Homo sapiens: one gene and its partner. The protein of the gene in region 1 purifies or fractionates together with the protein of each later gene. This does not show direct contact. Each region holds a gene or a part of one and is shown in the gene's direction. Other genes may lie near its edges.

Region 1 (7,284 bases):
TTTTAGTTAAACAATATGTAAATACATCTATAAAACATTAAAACAATAATAAGGTATATCCCACCTCCTCTCCAATCTTTCTCCCTTTCCCAGATGTAGTAACTGTTACCATACTGATGTTTATACTTTCCAAACTTTTACTTCACATACACATTCATATACTACAATGCCTTTGTTTGCAGTTCAGAATAATTCATTTTCTTATATTCTATTGTTGAAGTTCCACACATTTCTGCATATTTTATTTTTAACCTAGCTAGACAGTCTTACAAAGTGAACCTTTGTCCATAGCCCACATTAAACTATGAATAGATTTTGGAAAAAAAAAAAAAAAAACCATAGGGTCTATTAGGGCTAATTAAAAAGAATGATTTTTGATTGCAGGAGGCTTAAACAGTGCTTCCTATGCTTCTGAGACATTCCAGAGGGAGCATAAGAAACTGAAGGAGAATATAGGTTATCTGCCCTTGTAGCTGTCTGTCAGTCACTATTTATTAGAGCTGACTATGTTCTGGGTAGGAATGCTTTACATGTATTAGCTCATTTAATATTCACAGTAACCCTATAAGGTAAGAAACATTATTAAATGTGCAAAGTGTGACTTAGAGAGATTAAACCATTCGCCCAAGGTCACATAACTAAAAAGTAGCAGAGCTAAAATTTAAACCTTGTTCAACTCAAAGCTTGTATACGTAATCCAGACTTTTTGATTTCAGACCACTCTCCCCTTCTTTTCTTTTAGTTTCCACAACAGACTCTTCTGTCCCCCTACCCCCCTCCCCCAACCAAGTGAAATCTTTATGCCACTACCAAAAACCTATAAAAGCGGCCAAGCCTCTTCCAGCTCCTTTCTAGTCCTTAATACTGACAGTAATGAGAGGCTGCCCTGGGGAACCCAGATTCTAGGAACATAATCTGAAGAAAGACAGTCCGGATGCTAGTTCTACAAAATCCTTTGGATTTATGCTTCTCATCCTCATATTTTAAAAGCTCAACTAAAGCAGCTTAATTTCATTTAGCAGAGAATTGCTGAACTAAACTGGATAAGAGTTCTACTTTCATTCTTTAAGTGTTCATGATAAATTAGCATTAGATGTATATGGATTATATTTTACTCTTAAGAGTCTCCAAAAATTCATTTAAGATGAATGGAAAAATGTCCTTATCAGTTTTATTCTCCCAATCCAAGAGTTTTAAAAGTTGTCAGTCCAGCTAAAGGTAATCCATTTTCATGGATTTAAAGATTTGTTCTGTTTGTGGCTCAGATTCTTACATAATGATTTAGAAAACGCAAACAAATGACATTGTCTCCAACTCGATAATCCTTTTTGGAAATACACAAGGTATGTGAAAAAAACTTCCATAGCCATGATTACATTACCTTTTGTAAAATTCGAAAGGCTATCTAACGCTGCAGAATTTTGGATGTGGAATGAACCTCAGAAATTCTCCCTCTGACTTCCCTCTTTCAAAGATGAGGAAACTGAGTACCTGTGGTAAATCACCTGTCAAATTAGAATGAGGTTAAGCCAGGACTCATGTTTTGGGTTTTCACTTCCAGATCTCGTGTGCTTTCCTTTTTGCTAAGTTCTCAACATCAAACTAGTCAAGTCTTTCATGCCTCATTCATTCATTTTTCAACAAATAGAGTAGGAACAAAATAACCATGTTTTATCTTCATGAAACTAACGGCATAGTGACTACCAACTTTGACAAGACCGTTCCATTTTGACTCTGTATTTTTGTTGTTGTTATTTTTGTTTGTTTGTTTGGTTGGTTGGTTGTTTGCAGAGACAAGGTCTCACTATGTTGCCCTGGCTGGTCTCGAGTTTCTGGGCTCAAGGGAGCGTCCCAAAGTGTTGACATTTCAGGTGTGAGCCACCCACTGTGCCCAGCCTTGACTCTCTATTTTATGATTATATGCATTTGAACAATTCCTTGCATTATTCTTTAATAACAGTAGCTTTTCTAATAACTATGACTTAAATGGCATTAATATTGCTGGGCATGGTTCTAAGAGCTTTAAGTACATTACACATTTAAATCATCATACACAGGCTGGGCGCGTTGGCTCACGCCTGTAATGCCAGAACTTTGGGAGGGTTAGGCAGGCAGATCACTTAAAGTCAGGAGTTCGAGACCAACCTGGCCAACGTGGTGAAACCCTGTCTCTACTAAAAATACAAAAATGAACCAGGTGTGATGGCAGGCGCCCATAATCCCAGCTACTCAGGAGGCTGAAGCAGGAGAATCGCTTGAACCAGGGAGGCGGAGGTTGTAGTGAGCTGAGGTCTCGCCACTGCACTCCAGCTGGGATGACAGAGTGAGACTCCATCTCAAGGAAAAAAAAAAATTATCATATATAAAAATACCTGAGATAGGTACTTTTATTATTGTGATTTCATAGATGAAGAAACTGAGGTGTACAGAAGTTGAAGAACTTGCCCCAAGTCACATAGCTAGTTAGTGACAGGATCAGGGTTTGGATCCCAGCACCAGGCTCCAGAGTCTGTGTCCTTAATCTCTATACATCCCGAATGCCTGTCAACATTAAATAATCCAGGGTGAAGTTCAGAGAAGTGAAATGATATGACTTCTCTGGCCTCCTCCTTTCTCTAATAACTGCAGGAACAAAGGAAAGGTTTTTAGTCTGGTTACAATGTTTACTCTAGCAGAGCTGAGAAGTTAAATTAAGCTCCTCTGAAGTGCTTATTCTTCACAACTATTTCATAAACAGCATCCCTTTACATTTGTTTTCCTTTTACTGTTCTATTTTGCCTGCTTAAAGTATCCAAATTGGAATAACAAAGGCCCTTTTCTTATGGGAAACTTTCGATGTCTTCTCAGAGGGATAACATTATTGAGCAGCACCGTTCAAAGCACTTTACTCAGGTAACTCTCACAATCCTTCATTATGCCCATTTTATAGCCAAGGAAACTGAGGGTCAGAGGTTAACTGATTTGTTAAAAATCGTAGACCTAGGAAGAGGTATAGCCAGAATTCAAATTCAGGTAGTTCGTTTACCAGCAGCAGTCTTTCCATTTGCGTCACTGGAGTGCACTGCGATGATGCCAATACTGTTGCAGGATTGGCTCTACTGAATTGGAAACTACTTGTGAAGACAACCCAAAGAGGTGTTTTGTTGTTGTTGTTGTTGATGTTGTTATAGCCTTAGCTATGAAGAGGTAGATTCTCCAAGTCACTACTGAGAGCGGTAGGAATGCTTTCTAACAAATCTGAAGTCTGCTTTAGATTTTTTCAAGATATGTTTGATCATGCTTCCCGGAACACGGCGGAGACTCCAGTGGCTGCTACTGTGCTTTCTTCGGAATGGCTAAAATCTAAGCTGTTTGAGTTCCTCTTGAGCCTGCGCCCACAACACAGCACATGGTCCCAGTGACACTGCATTGTTACATTAGTACTGCTTATTCCTCTGTAGCTCCCACAGGGCAGGAAGGTTTTTTGTTTTGTTGTTTTTTCATACAGTCTCACTCTGTCACCCAGGCTGGAGTGCAGTGGCACCATCTCATCTCACTGCAACCTCTGGCTCCTAGGTTCAAGCAATTCTCCTGCCTCAGCCTCCTGAGTAGCAGGGATTACAGGTGTGCACCACCATGCACAGCTAATTTTTTTGTATTTTTTTTTTTAGTAGAGACAGGGTTTCACCATGTTGGCCAGGCTGGTTTCCAACTCCTGACCTCAGGTGATCCACAAGCCTTGGCCTCCCAAAGTGCTGGGATTACAAGCATGAGCCACCACAACTGGCTGGAAGGTCTTTAAGGACAGAAAACCAGTTACCTTGTTCACTGTATCCCCTACTTGTCAAAACATATTTGTTGAATAAAAGAATGCATAAAATAAAAGAACAAATCCTTCTATTACTTGCCCCTAAGTCATTGCCCTCTTCTCCTTCCTCCTCCGTCTTCCTTTAAACAGGCTTTGGTGGCTCAGAAATCTAATGCATTTTATTTCTCTCTATGTTTAGATATGGATTAGATATAAATTAAGACTGAAATGTAACCTAAATCTGGCTCAAAGACAAGCTGTCACTTCCCCTTCAGAGCTGGTGGGTACTTAGGGAAGCTTGACCTCAGCTTATTTGCTGATCCAATGCCCATAACACACCTTCTCTTCTATGATACTTTTCTTGTCAGGCCAAACAAGACAGACGTAGCAGTGATTCACTAATCTCCTTTTATTTTGCATTAATATGAATTACTAACTTCAGTAATATATAGTAGGCTGGGCACAGTGGCTCACACCTTTAATCCCAGCATTTTGGGAGGCCAAGGCAGGCAGATCACCTGAGGTCAGGAGTTTGAGGCCAGCCTGGCCAACATGGTGAAATCCCGTCTCTACTAAAAATACAAAAATTAGCTGGGAGTGGTGGTGGGCACCTGTAATCCCAGCTTCTCAGGAGGCCTAGGCAGGAGAGTCACTTGAACCTGGGAGGCGGAGGTGGCAGTGAGCCAAGATCACGCCATTGTACTCCAGGCTGGATAACACAGTGAGACAGCATCTCAAAAAACAAACAAACAAACAAAAACTATATAGTATCTGCATTATGTATCCTCCCAACTAGAATCCTAAAAATGTCTTTCAATTATTACTTATCCTCACTTTTCAGCATGGTCTTAGGAGCCACAGAGTGTGAGTAAGACGGATGCCTTTGGCACTTTGACCACTAAGTCTTAGAGAGTTTGGATGAGGGAGTTCAGCAGTCTAGGTTTGGCAGTGCTGGGGAATTAGTCTCAGTACTGCAGAATGTGGATGATGAGCCATTTTCGTTAGATAGATATTTTGCCTCCCCAGCAGCTCTCAAGAAAATCCTGAGATAGGCTCTTAGCTACAGTGCTTGGGAGGGATTTTGAATGGAAAGTGTAGCTGAGTTCCTTGAAATTCTGCACCATTTTTTAAAGGGCTGGTGCTGAAATGCGGGTGCCATATGTAACACTGGAGTAAGAGATATTCTGAGCTCACCCATATTTTATGATCTGTAAGTGCTTAACAAGGTAAAGCAAAACCAAAATGAGGGGGCAGGAGTGAGGAACGTGGGGGGTGGAGCCATCAAAATGCATGTTGGAGATTTCCGAATATGAAAGCATAAAGGCAGGAACAGTAATGGGAATTGGATCAATAGAAAAGTTTAATTAGTAATTTAGGTCAAGCTAAAGATAGTTCGCTAGAGCAAATATTGTAGAAGCATATTTTTAAAGTGTGATTTTTTTTTACATACTAGTTAATTTTTTTTAGAAATAAGTCCAAAAATAAAGGTAAATATCAACATTCCTAACATTGGCAGAAAAGACTCCTGACTTATGAGTGGGATGCTGTTTCCTGCCTGCTAAGGAAAGCTAGGATTCCTAGCTTGTCAGCTTGTTTGAGCGTGAAATCATTGGCTCCTCACCAACCTGGGGATGAAGATTTTTATCCATTCTATGGGGCTCAAGAAAGTTCAGCTCGCAGGGTAAAAAGAGTCTTCGAAGAGCTTTAACTGAAGGGATACGCAGTGTCTCTATAGAGATCCACATCCTCTGTAATGGGAAAGCAGGTGGTTCTGGACCTCACTCTCAGTGAATCCTTCTGGCCCAGAAATGAGGACAGCAGCAGTGACCTACCCTGGTCCTTGGTCTAAGAGCAGGCTTACCCAGCAAGTGGCCAGGTTTCTCTGGCAAACTGCACAGTGATGCTGGCAAATTTATAAAAGACCATGTGGGAAAGTGGAGGAGAAGGAGGTGGAGGAGGTGAAGGAGGTGCAGGAGGAGGAGGACAGGAAAAGCAGACAGTAAGGCAAGTTCGGTGCTGCGTTGGCCTCCTCCTGCAGCTGCCATGGCATGTGGAGAAAGGATTATTATTATAGTTTGTTTACTCTCACATCTATTTCTCTGCAGCATTCTGAAATGACATTGTAAGTATTTACAACAAAGGGAAATGAAAATCAAAGATGTAACTAGAGCAGTAGAGGAATCTTCTATTTGGTAGTTCGAGGTGCCAAAATATTACTCTAATTGCTTTCTAGAGCCTGCTGTGACGTTTTTCGGAGAAGAATTCACTTAGCTACTTCTGTAACATTAGGGTAACCTTGGCCTCTTTTTCCCTCCTAGGTCAGGGCATTCACCCAAAACGCCATTTGCTTCGGGAAATGACTGGTCATGTGGTTCTTCCACTTTCTCTCTCCTGTCTCTCTCTCTTTCTCTCTCTCTGTTGTCTCTGGAGGATAAGCTCACAGCAAGGCAAAAGAGAAAAGCATGAAGTGAAATATTCCTAGGCTTGCCGGGCACGGTAGCAAACGCCTGTAATCCTAGCACTTTGGAAGGCTGAGGCGGGTGGATCACCTGAGGTCAGGAGTTTGAGACCAGCCTGGCCAACACGGTGAAATCTTGTCTCTACTAAAAATACAAAAATTAGCAGGGTGTGGTGGCGTGCACCTGTAATCCCAGCTACTCAGGAGGCTGAGGCAGGAGGATCACTTGAACCCGGGGGGTGGAGGTTGCAGTGAGCTGAGAGGGCACCACTTCACGCCAGGCTGGGTGACAGAGAGAGACTCTGTCTCAAAAAAAAGAGAAGAAACATTCCTAGGATTGTGCCCATAGAAAACAAAGGATTCTCGTTCTAACCCAGTGGCTTAAGGAACATCTTGCTATCTCTGAGTTTGTTAGAGTGACATCAGCCAGTTTGAAAGACCTTGGTAGCTCAAAGATTTTAGTCTCTAGAAATAGCAAGGTGAAAAAAGAAAAGTCCCCCAAATTGTTAAAACATATTTAGACTCAAGTCCCTGTAGGACAAAAATTAAAATATGCCAGAGGGGAAAAATGAAAGTTAATAGTTTGAGAATTAAAAATAAATCGGAATATGTATTTATAATGTTTATTACTCAGAAATGTGATCTTTCCCATAGAATGATCTTTCCGAAAGCAGCTGAATTTTCTTTGAACTCTGAATCTTTCTGGGCCAGTATTTATTTAGGTTGTACTGTAAAAAAAATTACAGGAAAAAAACGATGAGTACATAGCTTCCGGTGTGGTTTAAAAGATTGGGGTAAGGCTGTGGAGGGGTAGTATAAAAATAAAGACATTAAAAAAGAATCCTCTTCACAGCCTCACATAGCTTCTCTGAAACCTAGAATATACACGTGCTGGGTGCAGGACCTTGTCTGCCTTGTTCACAGTTCTGTCTGTGTGCCTGGTGTGTAGTAGACGCTCAATAATATATGCTTGATGAATCAATAAAAACAATTTAATCAAGGGTCTTGGGGAAGAGCTACCATGTGTAATTATGATATC
Region 2 (5,993 bases), on another chromosome or scaffold:
TTTTTACTACCAGCAGTATGTTACTTAAAAAACTACATGGCTTTCCTTGAATTTATTTGACGGTATTATGTAATAGACTTGAAACAATTGCCATCTTTGTAGTTATGCCTTGGGTTCTAAAATGTTATAGGAAACTGCTGAATTGAATCCTAGCTTTTAGAATATTAATAGGAGACTCAAAGTTAATATTCTTAACAACTTAAAATTAAAAAAAGTCATAATCTATCAAAAGTTTATTTATTGGATGGCATTAAAACATTTTTGAGGCAGTTGTCTAATATGAACAATAATCTAAACAATATATTCCTTAAATTAAGAGGAAAGACAAGTGTCGTATTTCGATCCTGTTTATTCAAATGTGTGATTTTGCTGAAATGAAAGGGATAAAATGAATACTTAGAGAATAATACTTCATTTTTGCAGTACTTTTTAATTTTGATAAAAAAGATACAAAGTTCATAATATCAAAATATGTGTTCAAAATTGGTATTTTAATTTTAATATTTTTGTAAGTTGATTTAAATTTTGCTCTTTTTTCAGGTGTGCTTGGTTTATTATATTTAGTCAAGTTAATTTAGTCGAATGTGGTAACATTTTTCTGATTTATCTTTAGTTGGAGCACACCCTTGAACTGAACAGTGGCCAAAGGAAAGCTTTCTGGGCTTTGGAAAGTAGTTGTTTAACTTTGTTTTAAGCCGTTTTCTTAGTGATTCTGTATCAAGTAGAGGATAAGTGTAGTTTAACTTAGTTTTTAATATAACCCATAATCAAGAACATGAGCGAAAAGCAGACATAAATCGATATGGATGGTTTGTGGTGTGTGTGGGATGTGGGGGAATTAAGAAAATGCCATTTACCTAAGCACAGTTTGCCTGAATTTCTGCTTGGTTGTGTTGTTTACCGTAAGTACTGAGGGTAGTTTCCCTAAGTCTGTCCTGAGAAAAAGCATACTTAGTACTCCTGTATTTGTTCTTATGAAATGACTATCTGCCTTCTTGTATCTAGTAAGATTGGCTGGCTCAATTTTCTTCTGTCAAATTATATGGTTATTTTTTATATTACCACATCAGCATTATATTAAAAGTGTTTTTAATAGTTGATTGTATTTTGCCAACTACTAGTATAGACTCAAATTTGCTATTTAATTTTTAAAATACAATTTATTTTGTAAATCCTTTAAAAAATATTTGGTTAGTTTTGGATTAGAAATGATTTATGTTAGCCATGTGTTGAAGATGAAATTGGCATCAGTGTAGACGGTGCTGATTGGGAAAAGTTCATGATTAGGAAATTCATGTAAGACTTTTTAAGAGTATTTTTTAGGTTTTCACTCAATCTTTCCTGTCACAGTAACGTGAAAACTGATTATTCTTTACTCCAAGAGAATGTTTTAACCCAAGCAAGTATCTAATACTAGAGCATTGGTTCTGACATTCATTGTAAATCAGTGAACTGTAAGATACTGTCTAAAAAATGTACATTTGTAATTAGTGCCTTTATTCATATTTTGAAATAAGTTCTTAGTTTTATATTATACCTGTTCTTTAGAAGTCATGTTAGCAGCTAATTATTTCAGTGATGAAATAATTTGTGTTTTATATCCCCCTTCACCTCCATGTATTGGTTAGCACAGTTTATAGTAAGTGAAAAGCAAGGGACCCACCTACATTACCTTCAGGAGACTGTTCTACCTTTTAATTTGAAAACAAGGAAATTAAATTTTAACAGAAATCTTTTAAGTATGTTATAACCAAAGTGTTCAATTATCCTTGCAAGTTCAAATACAGCATTTTTCTTAATTTTGAGCGTGTCATGTCCTTCATCTTTAAACCCATCATTCTTATTGAAGCCCATTTGAGAACTCTTAGAATTAATAGAACCTTTTATAAGGGAATATATGGAATATTTTTTATTGTTAATGTAACTTAATTCCTTAAAACCTGGAATATTAATATATATAATCTATTAAAAGCTGAAGATTAAATATGTAATTTTTGCTTTTAGTTTCTTGTGTTAGTATGCTTAAAGGTATCAATACTTTTATTCTATATTCATTAGAAGAAAGGTAATAAATTTAAGTTTCATTGCTGAAAAATTTTAAATGAGTGCCACCCCATAGCCATAGTCATTTTGATTAAGCATAATTTAACTTTCATTATAGCATAAAGAGAAAATAATTATTTTAGTATGGAAACAGTGATAGGCAGTGCTGTAAACAATATTCTCTGAAAAGTTGTGGGGGTCACAAAGAAAATTTTAAAGAATATAGAAGCTTTTTTAAAAAATCTTTTTAGTGTAGTTTCTTAGAACAAATTATAAACATAATCATTCTGAATAATCAATTTTTATTTAGTCCTTAACTATGTAAAACCGTATCAGTAGAAAAATGTGCTGGTGTCGTGTCTAAAGATGGATAAATTTCTTTGGAATTTATCTTTGGAGACCAACTTTATGAGGCAGACTTTTTGTCTACAGCTTTGGAACCAAAAAAACTTCACTCTAATTCAGTCCTAAAGGCTATTTTACATTTTGCCGGGGTAAAGTGACTTCAAGATACAGCATGGTGTCTTGTATCTAGTAGAATATTGTGCTAGCCATCTAAAAAAGTGGATTTGAGCCTTAATTTGGCCGTTTCTCAATTGTCTAGTTGACCTTAGACAATTAGTGTCCATGGCTTTCCTTTTGTTTTTCCCATACTGAGGAACTTAAACTACAGCTCTAAAATGTCTTTTGGTTTTAAAATTCTGAATGCTTATATACTACTATTAAAAATTAAAAATCCCTCAAATAGTAGGGCAATACAGGTAATATGAAATTAAATGTATTTTTATCCATTATTTGATTCCCACCTGTTATTTTATTTAGAATACGAATACAACCAAGTAGGGAAAAACGTATCAGTAACTGCTATTCAACTTAAATTCAGCGAATTAATAGCTGAATAGAAATAGCTAATGACAATGCAAAAGAGAAAACAAGCCATATTGCTAAGAAAAGGATAGTAAGCTGCTTAGAAAGAACCAGCCTGTGTTGGAAATAATTCTCTTCTAGATAATTTACCTTATTTTCTTGGCTTGTACTAATTGAATGGAAGTGGTTAATTTGTTCAGAGTTTATTGCCGTTTGATGCCACCCCAGTCTATAGTTCTGTGTGACTTTCCATATTGAAAGAGTAGGGTTAGTAGCCAGGTTGTCAGTCTTTTACAAATGTCTACATAAATGTCTACATAAATCTGAAAGTGGTTTATATTCAAGGTTAGTTTTTCAGTAGCGTCTCCTCCTTATTCATTCACTTTTACTGTGAAGACTGAAATCCAAAAGCCAGGTTCCCCAAAAAAGTATTTTTAAAAAATTTTAGGGGACCAAAATAAATAGAGGAAGACCAATATAAAAAAATATGTTCAACTATTCCATTTTAAATTTAAAGCAGAAAAAAAAATTGTGCCCCTCAGACCTAAAGGCAGCTTTAAATGTATATAGTTTGGTGAAACATTTGGGAAATATTAATTTGGAGGTTTAGAAGCATACGAAAAACAAATTCAAAGCACTTGAAAGTAAAGACAATATCATGAGGTCGAAAAAACTTCAAAAGGATATTAGGTAAGAGAAAATGTGAATGAAAGCAGTGAATTTCTGCCTCTCCTCGTATTTAGGGTACTTAAAATTACTAAAAAATACTGTCTTTTTACCATACAGCTAGATGGCCTGTATTATTCTTAATGTGGCCAAAGGAGTGAAGACTGATTAGGGTTTTAGAATTTGGAACTGTAGTCACATAAAGGCATCTTTTGCATTTCTTAAACCAGTAATCTACATTTTCTCCTGGAAATGGAGAAATATGAAATGTGCTGTGCATAGCTTTTGGAATAGAAAACAAAGTTTTAAAAGAATGGATATGTTTTCTTGCACAACTTGTAAAATTTTAATTAAAAAATTACCTCATTTTTCAATCCATAAGGTGCTTTGCTCAAGTTTGTGGGATGTTTGTACCATCCCATAAAAACCCCCTTCACCCAAACTGTATTTGAAATATGCAAAATTCATAACTAAGGGATAGCATTCCTTGGAGACTTTGTTTTGTTTTACTCTTGTTTACCAGCTGGGCCAACATGGTAGATATATGAGATTCACATATGGTTTCATTAAAGCACATAGGAAAGTGCTCAGTCAATATTTAATTAGTTTAATTAGATAAGGGAAAGGAGAAATCCTAAATTTGATGGATTCTTTTATACTGTGAATATATTTCCATCAGTGTTGGTAAGATATCAAATGACTATCAGTTGATCCCAGTCATCAGTGACTTATTTGCATATTTAAGCCCTATTCACAAGAGACCATAATCATTTTAATCTTATATTTTCCCTCAGGAAATTTAGGGACTCTGAAGCCCCTATTTTATTCTCTTGGAGTAAACTGTTGAGTGTAGTTACAAAAACTTTTATTTATGACTTAAAAAAAGTTTAGCTGCTATTTCAGTGAAAGTGTAAAATAAAACGGTCATGATTTTTTTCAATTACAGAATAGTTACAAATTTTACCATGTTCATCTATTCCACAGAGCATGTTAAAAACAACAACAACAAAAACCTAACAGCAATTACAACCTTGGTGTTGCGTTTATTCTAATCAGAGTGAATGATTATAATCACACTTTGCTATTTTAACATAAATTGGTGCTTTAGAGCATTAAAGAGGAAGCAGCAGGCCCTGTACTCAGTATTTATTATTTCTTGCCTCAGAATGCAAAACAACTTTAAAGTGTCTATATTCATATATATGTGCATTTCTTAAGATTTAAATACAAACTGTTGTTACTCCTTAAGCTTCAGGCTTTCTGCGAAAGCTCTAAGAATATCTTCATTACTATGCTTGGTCAACTGGAAGATGGTATTAATAAGGTCAGAATTAGGAATTGGATTGCTCTGTGGGTCCTCCGGTATTGTGCAGAGGAAAGAAAAATGTCTTTCACACCACAAACTGTGTGTCTGAACCCCAGCCAAACAAATGTGTTCCATTGGTCCAATATATAAGCATTAACAACAACAACAAAAAATTTAAAACAAGTAAATTAATGCATTCACATGATCACTTCTTGAAAATGGTTCAAAGCATGTTTTCCTGATGGTGGGATTGTTTAAATGACATGTTTTAAAGTTTTTAATACTTTATTAGTTATGAAGTGCTTCTTTTATATGTTAAGTTTAGGTTGCCAGTACTCATAATTTTTATTTCTGCAATTATGTTATAATGAGTTGTTTGCATGCCTACTTAACCCAAGTAAAACGATGCTGTTTGCTCTGGAATGTTCATCTTTTAGACAGGTTTTGGCTCATTTCCAATCATGGTGCAATATAGTGTAACATTCATTTGTTTTCATTCAACAGTTTTATTTTTGTCATAATAAATAATTACTTTTCCAATACGAAGTGAATCCAGTGTTTTCTTTTAAAGGTAAATCTGCTTTAAGTTATTTGCTTGCAAATAATAGAAACCCACCTATGCCAACAAAGAGAGGATAATTGGGGTGAGGTGGTGGAGGCTCACAGAACCCACGGAACAACTGGATTTGTAGAACAGACTGAGACTAGAGACTGGACCATTTAGGAGCAAGCAGGAAGTTACCTTTTTTCCTGCTCATCTGTTTCTGTCTTTCACCTGACTGGATTTCTCTGTTTCCTGATCCACATAACAGATAATGTCCCAAGTCCAGTAGCCTCCTAAATTTGTACAAGGGAGAAGTCAGATTATTGTTAGACTTTCAATTACAATTCCATATTCCCCAGGGAAATTGTTCATTAGCCTGCATTGGGTCATTTCCTCTCTCTGATCTAAACAACTGGCCAAGTGGAAGGTGCATTTACCAGAGAAGGGGAATCCCTGGCCTGGGAAGGTGATCCGGATTGGTGTGTACTCCATTGTGGGGTATAATTGGGATCATCTACCAAAGTTGTGTCCTTGTAAAAAATAAAATAAAATTGAGATCTAATAATG

Evidence for each region.
Region 2: the proteins of SGK1 (region 1) and ARL5B purify together in Homo sapiens (affinity purification with mass spectrometry; 2 studies listed by BioGRID and IntAct, with this or other methods). This does not show direct contact.

The regions. Positions count from the first base shown.
Region 1 is NC_000006.12:134,307,845-134,315,128, reverse strand, and holds part of SGK1 (serine/threonine-protein kinase Sgk1), read left to right. Parts: intron 1-7,284. UniProt on the Homo sapiens protein: Serine/threonine-protein kinase which is involved in the regulation of a wide variety of ion channels, membrane transporters, cellular enzymes, transcription factors, neuronal excitability, cell growth, proliferation, survival, migration and apoptosis.
Region 2 is NC_000010.11:18,676,216-18,682,208, forward strand, and holds the end of ARL5B (ADP-ribosylation factor-like protein 5B), read left to right. Parts: 3' UTR 1-5,424; downstream 5,425-5,993.